4 separate regions of the Homo sapiens genome follow, and regions 2, 3 and 4 are each reported to be linked to region 1. The links are microRNA targets in miRTarBase. Many come from high-throughput screens and were not tested one by one. Region 1 holds a microRNA gene; each other region holds the end of a gene's coding sequence.
What was found. The annotated mature microRNA hsa-miR-2278 reads GAGAGCAGUGUGUGUUGCCUGG and lies in region 1 at 2,037-2,058, opposite strand. An mRNA with a match to its seed (bases 2 to 7 or 8) in the 3' UTR can be bound and repressed. Matches are read on the target gene's strand: a 7mer-m8 pairs with bases 2 to 8, a 7mer-A1 pairs with bases 2 to 7 and ends in A, and an 8mer does both.

Region 1 (3,075 bases):
TGTTCCCTGGATAAGGGACCATCAATTGTACTCTCAAATAACTTGAAACTATCGAAGTGTTGGTAGGCAGGAGGATGAATCCAATAGGTTCCTTTCATCTGTCCATTTATTCTCCTCACCCCAACTTGCCAGCACAAGCATGTGTGGCCTTTGAGGGTACGGGAGACACTCCAAGTTTAAACAGGTAAAATTCAGAGAGATGAACCTGGACCATCGGAAAGGTTAGAATAATCCTAAGAAGTTCTCCCCAGACAACACTTAAGCTGAGGAGATGCCGCCTCTGGGGGCTGCACCTGAGTGGTTACCGGGACAGGCACAGGGGCCTGGGCAGGCTTTCTGGGTGCAATTTCCTGCAGTGGCCTGGAGACTGGGGCCCAGTCCCCTACCAGGCAGTGCACCCTGCTGAGCTCTGGGACCCAGCATCTCCTGGTTGCTTACAGCTCTGCAAGGAGATATCAAAGCCAGGATAAATGGTTTGAAGCCAAAGTGGTGGTGGGGGGCAGCTGTGGTAGAGAAGGGATTGCTGATGGGGAGTGGAGAGAGCCCAGACGGAAGAGGTCTGGGGGCAGGGAGGGAAAGGCCAAGGGAGAAGAGAAATCAGAATTAAATGAAAACAGGGTTTGTAGCTGCGCCCCTCTCAGTAAAGTTCTGCCATGCATGCATTAACCTTCCATCAATGAAAACAAAATCCAGGGACCTCATGCCTGCCTGCTGGGGCATATAAAGCCTAGGGGACATAATATCTTCCAGGTGGGTGTGCCCAGAAGCACACATTGGTACTTGACAAGTCATTTAAAACTGACTGTCAAGGTCAAAACAACACCACCTGCAGGCACAACTGAAATGTCTTCATCCATTCCCCCGCTCTGAGTTCTCTGTTGTTGTTGTTTTAAACTAAAACACAGTTTGAGCAGCAGACAAGCCTGACAACTGTTCAAACATATGTATGTGCAACTTATTAGCTTGCAAATGGAGATATCTGGAAGCTAAAGACATGTGACAGGGGTAGGGGGCAGGTTAGCCACTGACTCTGAGGGGTCAAAGGAGGAGGTCCTTTGATGGGCTGAAGGAAGAAGGCCTTCAGTGATGGAACCCACTCCTGATGGAGTATTTGAAAATGATGCTTTTCACTGATGACACACAAAACAGAGGCAGTTATTATGAAAAGAAGGGGCCCCTGCCCTTGAGATCTGTTTATTTTGCAATTAACAAGGGTTAAAGAGGCCCCCTTCTGAAACTTTTGCTTGGGGGCCTAAAATTTAAACACCTACTACTGCCTAGGTGCCCACAGAGTCCAAGAAAATCCAAGCCTCATGATCTAACTAGCTCTTACATCAAAAAGAAAATATACATGTATTTTAAATTGCTGAACGAAACTGAATCACCCCCATGCCTTGTTGAAATAAAAAACCTGATTAAAGGCCAGGCGCAGTGGCTGACGCCTGTAATCCCAGCACTTTGGGGGGCTGAGGTGGGTGGATCATTTGAGGTGAGGAGTTCAAGACCAGCTTGGCCAACATGGTGAAACCTCATCTCTATTAAAAATACAAAAACGAGCCAGGTGTGGTGGCGCGCACCTGTAATCTCATCTACTCGGGAGGCTGAGGCAGGAGAATCGCTTGAACCTGGGAGGTAGAGTATGCAATGATCCGAGATTGCGCCACTGCACTACAGCCTGGGTGACAGAGCGAGACTCTGTCTCAAAAAAAAAAAAACAAAAAAACCCTGATTAAATCAAATGTAGGGGCCCTAAGACATTCTGCGGGTTATTCTAAATCACCCCCTTACTTTTCCAGAGAAGAAAATTAGGCCAGGGAGGCCCAGTGACTTGCCCAAAGTCCCCGCCTGTGACTGGATGCAGTTCCTAGGAAGCACGGCCTCCTTCTGAGCAACAGAAAAGCAGGAAGCCTCACCAGGGAGCTTTCTCACCCATTCACCGGCACGCTCCAGCCTCTTCCTGACCTTCTTACCTGTGACATGACGGCAGGGTCTGGAGTCAGTGCAAGCTGTCTGGGTGATACCAGTCCACACAGTCCCCAGGCAACACACACTGCTCTCCAACACCTGCAGCACAATCAGCTGGGAAGACCTGTTAGCCTTCCAGATACCAAGACTGCGGCTCAATTCACTGAGTCAGTCTCCAGGGTAGGGCCCAGGCAGCTGAAGGGAGCCCAGGGCACGTGCCAATTCTTTGGGATAAAAGTGACAGAATTTACTTTCATAATTGTTTTTTTCTCATCCTTTTACATTTTCTATTTTGTGTATGTGTTTTATAGTGTACCTAATATATTAACATTGTACTAAATGCATATAACTTATAAATAAATAAATATAGATATATGAATTGGGTAATTGCTCAAAAAGAGGTCTATAAACAGAAAAGCATGGGGGCCTCCTGCACCAAACTGTGAGTCCCAAGAGGGCAGGACCTGTGCTTCCTCACTGCTGTAAAGCAAAGCCCTTGCCCAGGGCCTGACGCATGCAGGTCAGGTCCTCACTCACCACTGACAGAATGAAAGGCGAATTCCATCTCCAGCTGTATCATGGACTCCCAGATATTTCTGAATAGAATCATCTCCCAAAGTGTGTTTTGAGGAGGTGGTTTTTTTGAAACCACAGTGGTTCCATGAAATGCTCACTGTAAAAAGGGCTCCCTCGACACAACAGTTGGGGGAATACTGCTTATCCTGTCTCTGTCTTCAAGATGCACAGATATACCAGGATATTAAATCAGGATCATAAGAATATTAAAGGCTTTCTTAGAAGCCCTCCAGTAAAGAATCTCTTTTAAGTTTATTTAATCCATTTATTTCCTAAACTAATTAACCTACAGTTCCTTTTCCCACATTATTAACATTCCATAAAACTAGTCTTCCTTGAAACCAACTTTAGAAACTCCCAATTTAGATTTAGGCTAAAGGTCTATACTTCCTCATGGCCACAGCATCATCAGCATTCATCACACCTGTCCGTTGATACATGTTTGTCGAGTGAGTTCTTGGCTTTGTCCATCCACCCCTTTCCAACTGCGCTTTCAATAGGATGTTCTAAGATTGCACATCTATGAAAAAAGGC
Region 2 (3,075 bases), not on the chromosome of region 1:
CACTCCAGTCTGGATGACAGAGTGAGACTTTGTCTCAAAAAAAAAAAAAAAAAAAAAAAGAATGAAAACAGGAGATAGAAACATGAGTGATCAACTAGTCCAGTTCTCTCTCACAAATGCACCTTAGAAGATGCCAGAAACCCGCTCATGGCACCCAGAGGGTGGTGGTGCTGGGCCTTCAGTCCAGTTTGTCTGAGGCCCAAGCCCCAACCTCATCACTCTCCTCAATCAAGAGGCCTGAAGATAGAGATGAAAAGCCATCCACAAACCCCAATCTTCACCACACACAATAGGTTGCATCTCTTCATCCTTTTGTCTTGGAAAGAAGTTTACAATTCGGAAAGTGTTGGACACCCTGGTATGAACCCCCATTCCAGCCAGGAGGGGAGGGCACAGCACCTGCATGGTTAGGGACAAGTTCAAGGCATCAGAGCTCCTCCAGCCTCTTGCCAGATGCCCTCACATCCTCGCCTTCTCAGAGGGTAACTCAGGACTCTCCCAGCAGCCTTGACAACTCCTACTACTGCCACCACTCCGAGGCTACTGGGTTCGAGTCCATCCCTACCCCGCATGGCCAGAACCCTGGCCTTTCTCTATGCTGCCGGCCTGACGCCAGTTGGCAGCAGGAAGAACAAGCCAAGCAGATCCACTGCAGACCACCGAGTTCATTTCATGAAAACTCAGCACACAAGAAGTCAAGTCCAACTGCAGTTACAGATCCTCTGTTTTTAAAAAGGGTTCTTCCTAGGACTCCACTAAAAAGACCTGCTTTCCCAGATCTAAAGTATGGCCTGGCATGCAGGCCAAGTGCTCAGGATACAGGGAGGGCACGTTTGTTGAGCGGGCAACTGCCTGCCGAGGTCCTTGGCCACATAAGCACACCTGTCCACCGAGCGGTGCAGAAGCTGCCTGTGTCGCCTCCTCCTGAACCACCTCCTTGCTATGTTCCCGACACCTGACCGGCCCTGAGCCTGATGGCTCACGATAAAATACTGATAGGATTAATAGTCAGCCTTGTTGATCAGCTCCCAGAATGGGGAGGGTGCCTGGCTAGCTTTGATCTCTAAGTCCATTGGCCCCACGTGGACATTCCAGGTCTATGAAACCATCTGCTGAACGGCTTTCATGTCGGAGACACCTGTTGAAACTCCTGGGAGGGCCTCCTCTCATCCCCTGGTCCCCTGCACCTACCTGGCCGGACTGGAGACAATCTGCCCAGGAGGAAGAGGCTGAATGGAGGTGTTACAGGGAAGAGGACCCCCAAAGGAGATGTCATCTACAGCCTGCTCCAAGGCAAGAAAAGCCTCAGCCAGTAGCCAGGTGATTTGAATAAATGGCTTTACAAAACCTCCAGGTGGGTCCAGATCAGGTCAGGGCTCAAGGTCAGAGACGGGCTTGGGCAAGGTAGGAAATCAAGCACAGATGTCTACACACAAAAGGGCCCCTCGGCCCTGTTCCCACCCTGGGGATTCAAAGACGAGGCCAGTGTTTTGAAAAATATAAAATTTTAATAAAGGCTACATCTCTTAATTACAATAATTATTGTACCAAGTAATTTTCCTTAAATGAACTCTTTATAATGCATAATTTACAGTATAAGTAGAACAAAATGTCATGACAAAAGTCATTGAGTACAAGACTTGTAATAAAAAGGCATAAAATATATTTATACATAAACCCCTTTCAAAAAACAAGGGAAAGCTTGAGCCCTCAATATAGGGCGACACACGGAGCGGGTGACCGTGCAGGTACAGGTACTGTACTGATTTAAAGTCAAGCACTAGAGATAGTGGATTAATACTCTTTTGCCGTACACTATATACAGATGTATAGTACAAGTAACAATGGCAAACAGAATGTACAGATTAACTTAACACAAAAACCCGAACATCAAAATGAAGGTGTGTGGAGGAAAGGTGCTGCTGGGTCTCCCTACAACTGTTCATTTCTTTGTGGGGCAGGGGGTAGTTCCTGAATGGCTGTGGTCCAATGACTAATGTAAAACAAAAACAGAAACAAAAAAAACAAGGAACTGTCATTTCCACGAAAGCACAGCGGCAGTGATTCTAGCAGGCCTCAGGGCCCTGGGCCTGGGGAGGCTACATGAGGGGGAGCCTCAGTCACAGGATCAACCTGGGGCCCGAAGGAGCAGGGTTCCCTGCCTCTCCCTCTGCAACAGATCATCCCATCCAACACAACCCCCAAAATGTTGATGATGACGCAACATGGTCAACCCTCAAGACCTTTAAGACAAAACAGAGCAGCATAGGAAAAAAAAAAACAAAACGCACCAATTTCTGCATGTGTCAATGGTAGGGCACCATTTTAAAAAGTCTGTCTAAAACAGTCTGTCTTCACTTGGAGGGACGTAGTGCAAAGCATAATTCCTCTGTTAGTGAAGAAACCATGAACGCACTCCTAGCTCAACTCCTAAGTTTAGTCAGAACAATTAAAACTTCCTGTCTCCCCCTTCCAAGTTTAAAGCAGCATATCCATAAACTGGGGATGGGGGAAATCAACTGTTCTATAAATATCAGTAAGGATTCCTGTTCAGGTAAGCTATACACAGTTTCTCTTAGTTTATGGATTTCAGATCCCTAGGAAGTCATATATTATGTATGGCAGTCTCTCAAATACAGGCAGCATCTTCAATAGCCAAGAGTGGTCATGTTTTTAATAAATAGTTCAGGCTTTTCTTATCTCAGTCAGTACCCAGCTCATGAATCATGAAAATCAACCTCCCCCCGCCCTCCCGAAGGCCCACTGGCCGATTCTTCCTTAGACTTTGTCTTCTTCATTGGTTTAATTTTCCTTCAAAATGTTTTGTCGCAGTTGCTCACAGCCAAGACAGTTCACAAGAGCTTCGGGCTCCAACAGTTCACCAAAGCCAGACCCCAGGGCTCAATCGATCCGCTCCACTTTGCCCAGAATCCGGCCTTCATACATCGGGAGCACCGTCTCATCCTCCCAGATCTCCTCAAACACCGCTCCACAGGCAAACTCATCGCTTGCTTTTTTGAAGTAATACCTTAAAAGGAAAACCAAAAAAGCTTCTTGGTAAACTGCATTTTCCAC
Region 3 (3,074 bases), not on the chromosome of region 1:
TAGTTCACTGCAGTTGCAAACTCCCGGGTTCAAGCCATCCTCCCACCCCAGCCTCCTGAGTAGTTAGGACTACAGGTGCATATCACAAAGCCTGGCTATAATTTTTAAATTTTTTATAGAGATGGGGTCTCTCTGTGTTGCCCAGGTTGGTCTGAAACTCCTGGCCTCAAGTGATCCTCCCACCTCTGCCTCCCAAAGTGCTGGGATTACAGGTGTGCGTCACTGCACCCAGCCTGACTGTCCCCTTTCTGTTTGAAACAGTGTTGAGAACCACCCTTGCTTTAGGTGCCCGACTCTTTTCAGCCCCATGGCGTGGTTGGAGGCCTGCCCTAGGCGGGTGTGGGGAGAGGGCTGCTCGGTGGAGAATCCCACTAAAAGCGCAGACCCAGGCCTGGGGTGGGGTTTTCTGTCTTGCAGATGAAGGACTCGCTCATCAACCTTCAGAACGGCATCAGGTCCCGCGACTACACGTCGGAAAGTGAAGAAAAGAGGAATCGCTATCATTGACAAGGCAGGAACAGGGTGGCTGCAAGAGGCCTGTGCAATACATGTACATAGACCATATAAATATATATATATAAATATATATATATACAGAATATAAATATATATATTATATACAGATTTTAAAAAAGAGATAATGCCTATGTACCAGGGAGAAGGAGCGGGCCCTCCCGCGCCCTGTGCTGGCCGGAGCAGCGTTTTCTTATGGTGGAGCAGCTGAGGAGGGCAGGAACCGCCTCTCAGCACCGACCTCCCCTGATCTCCCTCCTCCCACCCTCTGTTCCCCACCCCTTCCCTTGCTGGCCATTCTTGGCTTTTAGAAGGGAAATGTTGAGCCAAAGTTATGCCTGCGAAGACCCTAAGGTCTCAAAAAGAAGTCTTAAGACGGCATTGCTTAAGGTGCTTCATTCCCTAATCCCCTTTTGATTTGTTTCCAAAATAAAAGAGAATCTTTTCTTCCCTACCCCAGGCTTCCCCAGGCATTCTCTTGGGAACACAGAAGCATCAAGGGAGCCCAGTCTAAACTCCTAGGGTTGGCCGCCCACTTGATCCAGACCGTACTGAGTGTCAGATGGAGAGGATGCTTGGAAAGCTAGGAAGGCTGCATTGTGTGGTGGCAGGCTCCCGAGACTCGTGTTCTGAAGGATACTCTCCTCCATCACCCCTGCACCTTCCTCCGACCTGTGTAGGGTGTGGACCCAGTAAGGGCTGGGAATTTCTTACTTTCCCACCCGCTTTCTCTCTGGTCTTCTCCCAGGCTGGATCTGGGCGAAGTGTCACTTTTTAGTGCCTAAAGTCCTATTGTTTCTCTGTGCCCTAAGAGCACATTGTTTATTAGCCAGGGTGGAGCGTTTTCGACCTTATTAAACCTCTTTTAGTGCTTCTAAGCAAGTCAGGTCTGTGGCTCTGAGGCCTTCACTTAGAGCTGTCAGTGTGATTTCCAGGATGAGTCAGGGTGTGCTGGGCCCTCCAGGATTTGAGAGAGGGAGAGAAGGCCCTTGCCACGTCCGGGGTGCAGGGTCTACCCACAGAACACTGTGAGTGGTGAGCACCAAGATGGGTTGCCAGCCTCATTTGCTCTTTGAACGAACCAACATTAGCCAGTGGAGACGACTGTCTGAGACAGTTTGCACATAGAAAAAGCATCTGAGCCACTGGAGGGAAGGATTTGGCAAAGGTGCATGTGTTTGGGCAGGAAAAGGCCAAGTGAAATCTATGCCCTACGGGAGCCATTCCCAATCCTGAGTTTCTCAGACTTGGCAATGGGGGTTCTGGCGGGGGTTGGAGTACAAATCCTGCTCTGGTCTCTGGCCCCACAGAGGTGTAAGATCATTAAGAAGTAGAAGGCACTAGCTTCAAAGAGTGAGACATTCAGGGCCTTTTCAGCATTGGCCCACTAGCACCATGCATTTATCTGAATTCACGGGGCCCTCTGGGCACATTCATCATCCCTCATACACTAACTACTGTTTCTTCATGTAATGACCAAAAGAGTCCCACCAGCTCCAGGCAGAGCTTGTGGAGATTCATGAAAGAGTCATAGCCAGTTTGGCATGCAGAGGTCTTCAGTCTTGCTTATTCTTCTCCTGGGCTTCTTGACACAGGGGCAGAAGAAACCCCAGATGTCCCAGATGTCCCAGAACATCAGCCCAAAAGACAGAAGATTTTATCACTCATCTACCCCAAAGATAAAGTTGTATTTTTTTCTTAGAATGGCCTTTAATTCCCTGTGGCAATTACAGTTTTTGACTTTTCCATGTGAGAATAAGGCCTTGGTATTTCCCTAAGGGCAGGATCAGAAAACAGGAAGGTCCATGCCCAGGTGATCCTCCAAGGGAGGAGGGTGAGGAGGCTCCAGGGCATGAGCTAGAGTGGATATTCCTCCCCTAGAAGAGGAGATGGGAGGAAATGCAGTTTCATGTAATCCCTGTGAAGAGTGCCTATGCCCACAGCCCAGTGGGTCCTTGTTCAGTTCTTGTCCAGGCCTTTGGGTGAGGGACACTGGTAGGGATCAAGGCTCATGGGCTCTGAGCCAAAGAAGGAGGCATGGTGCAGACTGCTGGAAATCTCCCCCTTGGCACAGCCAGAAGCCAAAACTATTCCCAGAAAGTTTTGAATGCAAAACTTGTAGATTCCTGAATTTATTCCATACATAATTATTTCCTTAAGTTATTTAATTATTAAAGGTGCCACGGTGGGACCTTTGGGATGACTTAAAAAGGGTTCTTTGTTGGGAGTCAAGTGACAGAGCAGACCTGGCCGCAGGGAGTTGTTCTGCTTCTGCTTTACCTCTCAGGACCATTCCCAGGAGGAAAAGGTGGCAGAGAGGGCAGTACTGAGTATGTCAGAAGAGCCCTCCTGGTTTTTTAGCGATTTGAACCCACTAGACAATGTGTGCACATAGGGAATGTCCTTTAAGAATCATGGATCTCTTGTAGGCTCTCTGTGTTCCAATAATTTTTTGACTATCATACCAGGAAAAAACCAACAACTCTATTCATTCCCAAACAAAATCTCTTCCCCCTTAGTCAATAGCTTGCGAAAGACATCTTAACTCACCCTTGCAGATA
Region 4 (3,075 bases), not on the chromosome of region 1:
GTGTGGTGGCACGTGCCTGTAGTCCCAGCTATTTGGGAGGCTGAGGCAGGAGAGTCACTTGAACCGAGGAGGTGGAGGTTGCGGTGAGCCGAGATCATGCCACTGCACTCCAGCCTGGGTGACAGACTCCGTCTCCAAAAAAAAAAAAAAAAAAAAAGAAAGCAAGTTCGTAAGGGGAGTTATGAGATGATGGAGCTTAGATTCTCAGACCAGGAGGAGGCCCATCTGAGCTGCCTCGAGAGGGAAGAGGGTCCCTGCCATAGGCAGATTCAAGCAGGCCTCTGGGGTGGCCTTGAAGGCAAACCTCTTCCCACCCTCAGCTGCGCCTGTTGTGTGCTGAGGGGAGGTTGGGGACCTGGAGCCTGGCTCCTGCTCAGGCACATACTGTTGCCTTCACAGTCGGACATGCTGCGGTCTCTGGCCACCACCCGGCCCACGGTGAATGCAGACGACCTCCTGAAAGTGAAGAAATTCTCAGAGGACTTTGGGCAAGAGAGTTAAAAGCTGCTTCACTTGGGCAATGGTGAAGGTGGGAGGTTGATTGGGGCAAATCCAGGCACTCCCCATGTCAACAGCCAGACAGGGCTCCAGGGCTTGTCCCAGTCAATACAGAGTTCCCTCTGCTGTCTGGCCGTCTGCCAGGGAGCCAGAAGGAAGGGCCTTGCAGCCACAGAGACACTCCACTGCCCTGGGGCACACAGTGGACACTGCTCTTCCTACTTCCTCCTCTCCTGGATGCTCATCAGCTCCTTCTGCCTCCCCCCCTTTTTTTTCCATCTTTTGTTCCCCTAAATTAATGCTGCTTGGATTTTCATCTTATTTATAAAGATAAAATCACCTGGAAGTGTCAAGGAGTGGGGCGGGGTGGCGGGGGAGAAGCAGCCGTGCTGCCAGGTCACCCAGACCTCCAGACAGCCGGCTAGCCCCACTGCCCGTTCCTTTTACGCCCAAGTTTTGCTCCTTGAGAGCAGATTGGCTGATGCCCCTGCAACCCCAGCCCAAGCTCTGCCTCAAAGACCGAGTGACATAAGCCATTCCCACCCTCCTAGGTTCACATCCAGGGCTGTGTCTTCCTTGGGGGAGGAGATGGTGTCGTTTAGATCAGGGTAAGGCAGTCAGGCGGGTGTTCACCACTGCCTTTTCTTCCTCTGAGCGTGAGAACACTGAACCCAGCCACTGCCCCTGGGTCCCTGTCCTGGAAATGGTCTAATAAATCCTTTTCCCTTCTTGAGCTACCCAAGTGATCTCATCTTTCCTTGACTCTTAACTGAGACTCTGAAGGGCCACCCTTGCTTCCAATTAAAAGACCCTCTGGTTTTCTGTCTCCTCTCTTTTCTAAAGCAGAGCAGGAAACAGAACACTGCAGTTCTTAGGCCTGTTCTCCAGTCAGGTGTGCAAGGCCTCCTCCCCTTAAGGCCTCAGAAGTTTGGCTGGGGATGTTTGTGGGATCCAGACAGTTCTTGCCGTTGTTCGGCCTACAGATCAGAGACTGCAAAGTGGGAGCCCTGCGTACCAGACCCGTCCTGCAGCTGTGTTTGTTTGGTTTGGTCTGCCGCTAACATTTAAAAGTCGAGAGTTGCTGGGCGCGGTGGCTCACGCCTGTAATCCCAGCACTTTGGGCCGCTAACATTTAAAAGTCGAGAGTTGCTGGGCGCGGTGGCTCACGCCTGTAATCCCAGCACTTTGGGAGGCCGACGCGGGCGGATCACAAGGTCAGGAAATCGAGAACATCCTGGCTAACACAGTGAAACCCCGTCTCACTAAAAATAAAAAAATTAGCCGGGCGTGGTGGTGGGCGCCTGCAGTCCCAGCTACTTGGGAGGCTGAGGCAGGAGAATGGCGTGAACCCGGGGGACGGAGCTTGCAGTGAGCCGAGATCGCGCCACTGCACTCCAGCCTGGGCGACAGAGCAAGACTCTGTCTCAAAAAAAAAAAAAAAGTCGAGAGTTGACATAAAAATTCAGAATTCTGACTTCTAGAAGATTAAATTAGGTAATGTTGGGCCTGCGTCCTCATGGGGCAGCCTGTCAGCGGCCACTAAGTAGAGGCTGCTCTGTACAGAAGGGGTCCCCCATCCCCACTCATCTGTGTTGCCTGCCCAGATAGCCCCATGGCCATTTCAGTTTGCGACCCCCAACAGACCAAGGACCCAGAGCTGGCAGCCCTGGACCCACGTCCGGCAGGCAGTGAAGCTGCAGAGGCTGTCCCACGTTTACCCCATGCATATAAACAGACCAAAGTCAAAGCACATTCACACAGAAAGACCTGGCCTAGTAAATGAAGCTTATAGCCTGCAAAGGGCTTTGTTCCAACCTTCCCTCTCCAAAACCCAGTACTGCTCCTCTACCTTTCAAACCTGGTTGGGCCAGAACTGATTACATGGCCAACTCTTGGCTCACACTGGGCTTGCACTGGGCCATTTCTTTGCTCTGGTTCAGAGCCTCTGCAGAAGTGAGCTAACTTTGGATCAGTAGCTCCAACACTTGGCTCCAGTGCTGGCAGGTTACCCCTCAACCATAGCAGCTGGGATCTTTGTGGCTTGGGGGTGCTTGTGTAAGTTCTTGGTTATGTGCCCTCAGCCACCAGGATATGAACCGTGTCTGCAGAGCTTCACTTTAGTGAGCTTACAAGTTTTTAAATTTTTACTTCTAGTTACATTTACTTGAATCAGAACGTTGTTTCCTCATTCCTACTGCTTAAACACCTTGACAAGTCCTAGGGGTTAACAAAGGTTAGCATGGCTATGGTCCATCCCTGTGCTCTAGTTAGAGCGTGAAGACACCTGACTTTCCAGTTGTCTCTCTCCATGACCAGCAACAGGAACCACTGACGCTGAACTTTGGACAGTGGCCTCAGACTCTGGCTGCCAGCACACAACCTGCCATCATCGATGTTAAACATGCTGACATGTGCAGAGGAGTTTCCTCCCTGAAATGCTCTGAAATTCACTTCTCTGCCTGGGGATTCTGTTATAAACCTTCTGCCTACATTGGCTTTCACTGTGGAAGTTGATTTCTAAAACTCTGATGAGCTCACAACGTTGACATGTATATGCGTTTTTTGTGAGTGCTTCCT

Region 2: the mRNA of AXIN2 is a reported target of hsa-miR-2278. Seed matches in the 3' UTR shown: 7mer-m8 at 2,258-2,264.
Region 3: miRTarBase lists GRAMD1B as a target of hsa-miR-2278. Seed matches in the 3' UTR shown: 7mer-m8 at 1,800-1,806.
Region 4: miRTarBase lists VPS4A as a target of hsa-miR-2278. Seed matches in the 3' UTR shown: 7mer-m8 at 708-714, 7mer-m8 at 2,049-2,055 and 7mer-A1 at 2,758-2,764.

The regions. Positions count from the first base shown.
Region 1 is chr9:94,808,960-94,812,034 of GRCh38, reverse strand. MIR2278 (microRNA 2278) reads right to left here and starts at 2,073; the gene lies at 1,978-2,073. The region is part of intron 5 of AOPEP (aminopeptidase O (putative)); the gene reads right to left.
Region 2 is chr17:65,527,075-65,530,149 of GRCh38, forward strand. It overlaps AXIN2 (axin 2), which reads right to left. Exons shown (of 11, transcript NM_004655.4): 11 at 1,489-3,028. The coding sequence ends at 2,902. Among named protein-coding and RNA genes, the nearest start is that of AXIN2, 33 kb to the right of the region's middle. RefSeq lists enhancers at 837-1,131, 2,954-3,075.
Region 3 is chr11:123,622,089-123,625,162 of GRCh38, forward strand. It overlaps GRAMD1B (GRAM domain containing 1B), which reads left to right. Exons shown (of 20, transcript NM_001387025.1): 20 at 418-3,074. The coding sequence ends at 507. Among named protein-coding and RNA genes, the nearest start is that of SCN3B, 31 kb to the right of the region's middle.
Region 4 is chr16:69,323,809-69,326,883 of GRCh38, forward strand. It overlaps VPS4A (vacuolar protein sorting 4 homolog A), which reads left to right. Exons shown (of 11, transcript NM_013245.3): 11 at 400-3,075. The coding sequence ends at 501. It overlaps COG8 (component of oligomeric golgi complex 8), which reads right to left. Exons shown (of 6, transcript NM_032382.5): 6 at 2,620-3,075. Among named protein-coding and RNA genes, the nearest start is that of PDF, 5.2 kb to the right of the region's middle.